Linked DNA regions of Homo sapiens: region 2 is linked to region 1. Evidence: fine-mapped expression QTL. Tissue or cell type: whole blood. Region 1 holds a variant in brackets; the other region holds the start of a gene. All regions are shown on one strand. Distances are from middle to middle.

Region 1 (2,500 bases):
GTGCAGTGGCCAATCATAACTCACTGTAGCCTCAAACTCCTGGGTTCAAAGGATCCCCTTTACCTAGGACTACAAGCTTGCACCACTGCACCTGGCTAATTTTTTTTTTTTTTTTTTTTTTTTTTTTTTTGGTAGAGATGGGGACTGGCTATGTTTCCTAGGCCAGTCTTAAACTCCTGGCCTCAAGCAATCGTCCAATCTTACCTCCCAAAGTGCTAGGATTACAGGCATGAGCCACCACACCTGACCATTTTGATCATTTTATTTGTAAAGTTCAGTAGCATTAAGTACATTCACATGATTGTGCAACCATCACTACCCTTTTCCAGAACTACTTCTTCTTCCCAAACTAAAACTCTATACCCATTGAACAATCACTCTCTCTTCTCCCCTCTCTCCCAACCTCTGGTAACCACTACTTTTACTTTCTATCTCTATGAATTTGACTGTTCCAGGTACCTCACAGAAATGGAATCATAGGATATTTGTCCTTTGTGTCTGGCTTAGTTAGCATAATAATCGCAAGGTTCATCCATGTTATAGCATGTATCAAAATTTTATTCCTTTTTAAGGTTGAGTAACATCTCATTGTATGTATACATATTTTCTTTATCCATCAATGAACATTTAAGTTTGTATATCTTTGAAGAAATGTCTATTCAAATCCAATAGGTTGTTTTTTGTTGTTGTGTTTTAGTTTTTATATATATTAGATATTAGTCCCTTATCAGATATGTGATTTCCAAATGTCCTCCCCCATTCTGTTGGTTGCCTTTTTACTCTGTTGATAGTGTCCTTTGATGTACAATAGTTCTGAAATTTTATTGAATCCAATTTGTCTATTTTCTCTTCTGTTGTCTTCTAAGTCATAATTTTTTTAATACATAGGTAGGATTTGTTTGCTAACTTTTTTTTTGTTTGAGATGGAGTCTCGCTCTGTCAGCCAGGCTGGAGTGCAGTGGTACAATCTTGGCTCACTGCAACCTCCACCTCCTGGGTTCCAGCGATTCTCCTGTCTCAGCCTCCCAAGTAGCTGGGATTACAGGTGTGTGCCCACCATGCCCAGCTATTTTTTGTATTATTAGTAGAGTCGGGGTTTCACCATGTTGGCCAGGCTGGTCTCAAACTCCTAACATCAAGTGATTCGCCTGCCTTGGCCTCCCAAAGTGCTGGGATTACAGGCGTGAGCCACTGC[G/A]CCTGGCCAACAATTTTGTTTAGGATTTTTTGTATCTATGATCATGAGTAAAATTTGCCTATATAATTTCTTGTATACACCTATTTTCGGTATCAAGGCTATACTAGCAATGTTTTCTTTTTTTGCTCTGTGGAAACAAATTGCACCTGTTGAGGGTTTGGTGAACTTGACACCAAAACCATCTTATCTTTCTATGTTTTCATGGGGAAATTTTGTACTAGTTTTTTAATAATTATAAGTCTTACATGTTCTCTAATTCTTCTTGAATCTGTTTAATTTTTCTCCCTTGGGAATTGTTAAGTGTACATGTATTGTGATAACTGCTATAATTTTGCTTTTATTGATTTTTTTTGCTTTATATCTGCTACAATTTGGTTCCTCCAAATCCCATGTTGAAATCTGATCCCCAGTGTTGCTGGGGGATCTAATAGCAGGTGTTTGGGTCATGGGAACAGGTCCCTCATGAATGAATTAATGCCCTCACTGGGAGGAGGGGATAAGTAAGCTCTCACTCATTTAGTTCCCAAGACAGCTGGTTGTTTAAAAGAGCCTAGTGCCACTTCTCTCTTGCTTCCTTTCTTGCCGTGTGATCTCTGCACATGCCAGCTCCCCTTTGCCTTCTACCATGAGTGGAAGCAGCCTGAGGCTTTCACCTCATGCCCAGTCTTCCAGCCACCAGAATTGTAAGCCAAATAAACATTTTTTCTTTATAAATTATCCAGCTTCGGGTATTCCTTTATAGCAACACAAATGAACTAAGAAACTACTCTGCTTTTTCTTTATGTCATTTTGATAAGGGTCAAATTCTGTGTTTTCCTTAAAATGAATTCAATTTTGCCCTCATTCCTGAGGTATAGGTTAAGAGTTACTAATTTTCTTACAGGCTTGATTTTGTTGTTGAGAAGTCTAGTCATTCTAATTTTTCTTCATATTTTGTTAGTTTGTCCCTTAGCATTTCATATTCTTGACTTATTATAAATGTATTATTTTTAATTTTCTGTTATTTTGCTGCTAGTTTATGGAATACAATTGATTTTCATATCTAGACCTTGCTAAATTCATTCACTAGTTCTACTACCATGTTTTGCAGTTCCATTAGGATTTTTTTTTGTATATGATCTTAATTAAAGTCTGCACGTAAAGACAATTTACTTCTGTCTTTCTATTTTGCATGTCTTTTCTTGCTTTACTGCACTGACTAGAACTTCCTCCATAATGTTGAATAGGGGTGAGAAGAGCAGTTATCTTTGCCTTTTTCTCGACTTTGGGAGGAAGCATTTGGTCCTAGGGCATTACTGTGATATT
Region 2 (2,500 bases), 8.4 kb before region 1:
AGTTAGCATTTCCTTGGAGCATCATGACTGCACTAAAAAAGTTTTGGATTTCAGATTTTCAGATTAGGGATACTGAACCTGTACAAGATTCTTTCACATGTCAGATATAAGCCATCAGTTGATCACTGACAAGTAAATAGATGGTAATATTTAAGTTCCCAGGTTTTTATTTACAGATTTTATAATGTAGGAAAACTACAGAATGACCTTTTGGTCATTCACTTTTTTAGTTTGAATTCTAAAGTTCTTGAAATTCAAATTTCCACAAAGTAAAACTACTTTTCTCATTTATTTTTTAAATTCTCAGATCAGATACCTACTATTCCTCAAGACACACTGGGAGTTGATTTTGATTCAGGTGAAGCTAAGTCTACTGATAATGTCTTACCTAGAACTGTATCTGTTCGTAGCAGTTTAAAGAAACATTGTAACAGTATATGTCAGTTTGATAGCTTGGATGATTTTGAAACCAGTCATTTGGCAGGGAAGTCTTTTGAATTCGAAAGAGTTGGATTTTTAGACCCACTAGTAAACATGCACATACCTGAAAATGTACAACACAATGCTTGTCAATGGAGCAAGGACCAAGTTAACTTATCACCAAAGCTGATTCAGCCAGGAACGTTTACTAAAACAAAAGAAGACATTTTAGAATCTAAATCTGAACAAACTAAAAGTAAGCAAAGAGATACACAAGAAAGAAAAAGAGAAGAGAAAAGAAAAGCTAACAGGAGAAAATCAAAACGTATGTCAAAATATAAAGAGAATAAAAGCGAAAATAAAAAAACTGTTCCCCAAAAAAAAATGCACAAATCTGTCAGTTCCAATGATGCTTACAATTTTAATTTGGAAGAGGGTGTTCATCTTACTCCTTTCCGACAAAAAGTGAGCAATGACTCTAATAGAGAAGAAAACAACGAGTCTGAAGTGAGCCTCTGTGAATCAAGTGGTTCAGGAGATGATTCCGATGACCTCTATTTGCCCACTTGCAAGTACATTCAGAATCCCACGAGCAATTCAGATAGACCAGTCACCAGGCCTCTAGCTAAAAGAGCACTGAAATACACAGATGAAAAAGAGACGGAGGGTTCTAAGCCAACAAAAACTCCTACCAGTAAGTGATCTACTTGTTTACCTGTATTTTTAATGTTCGTGATAAATGATCACTCCTGATGCTTATATACTATACTTACCATCTGTTTCTCTGGTGGAGGTTGGAGACTTACCATCTGTCTCTCTTTGGTGGAAGTTATGGTCTGATTAAACAGTGGGGGGCTGGGTGTGGAAATCACAGTTGTATTGCTCTGACCTAATTCAGAGATTGCTTGTTATGGAGACAGAATTTTTATTTTCAGTAAATTAGGACTCCCAAGGGGACAGAGGGACTTTTTTGTAGACTTAGGTTGAATTGAAGTAGCTTTTATACACTTAACTGAAGTATCCCCTTGAAAGTGAAATCAAATTTGAATCCAGTGACTTGTTATTTTAATGGCCTTGTTTTATATTAAATTTGACAGGAACCGTGATTTAAAATAATCTTCTAGTTAGTGAAGATTTCCTCAATTGATAGGCTTAGTATTCTTTTGTACGACATCTCTAAAAACTGGCTCAGAAAATATTTTATTAGATCAAAAGTAGGCATAGTTCAAATGTTCGTAATACAACCTACACCTGTCCACAAAGATTCTCATTTGGCAATTTTAGTTAATACAAGTAAAACTAACATTTATAGTCAAGTTGTATCATTTTCAAAATATTGTCACATCATTTTATTTGATCCTCAGAACAATTCTGTGAAGTATAGGTGTTATGATGCTTATTTTGTTTGTAAGGAGATTAAAACCTTAAAAACCAAACCAACTTTCTAAATCGGCCAGTTAGTCAGTGGTAGCAGGCAAGTATCTTTTTTAAAAATATGCTGTAAGCCGGGCGGGTTGGCTCACGCCTGTAATCCCAGCACTTTGGGAGGCTGAGGTGGGCGGATCACCTGAGGTCAGGAGTCCAAGACCAGCCTGGCCAACATGGTGAAACCCCATCTCTACTAAAAATACAAAAAAATGAGCCAGGCCTGGTGGTATGTGCCGGTAATCCCAGCTACTCGGGAGGCTGAGGCAGGAGAAAAAGAATTGCTTGTACCCAGGAAACAGAGGTTGCAGTGAGCCGAGACCATGCCATTGCGCTCCAGCCTAGGCAACAAGAGCGAAACTCAGTCTCAAAAAAAAAAAAAGCAAAAATGCTATAATGATGTTAGAATAAATCAAACATGATTGTCAAAGTGTTGATAATTATTGGACCTGGGTAACTCAGAGTTTATTATACTGTTATTGCCATCTTTGTGTACATTTAAAAATGTCCAGAAAAAGTTGGGATTTTTTTGTTGTTGTTCACTTTTTAATTGAGACAGGGTCTTGCTCTATCACCTCGGCTGGAGGGCAGTGGCACTGTCATGGCTCACTGCAGTCTCAACCTCCCAGGCTCAAGTGATTCTTCCACCTCAGCC

The links.
Region 2: SGO1-AS1 starts here. The variant in region 1 is fine-mapped to the expression of SGO1-AS1 in whole blood (TOPMed, PIP 0.99).

The regions. Positions count from the first base shown.
Region 1 is chr3:20,164,473-20,166,972 of GRCh38, reverse strand. It overlaps a transcript of SGO1 not described here. Among named protein-coding and RNA genes, the nearest start is that of SGO1-AS1, 8.6 kb to the left of the region's middle. The variant G/A (reference allele first, on the strand shown) is at 1,196.
Region 2 is chr3:20,172,863-20,175,362 of GRCh38, reverse strand. It overlaps SGO1-AS1 (SGO1 antisense RNA 1), which reads right to left and starts at 1,077. Exons shown (of 4, transcript NR_132785.1): 1 at 838-1,077; 2 at 545-628. It overlaps SGO1 (shugoshin 1), which reads left to right. Exons shown (of 8, transcript NM_001199251.3): 6 at 308-1,114.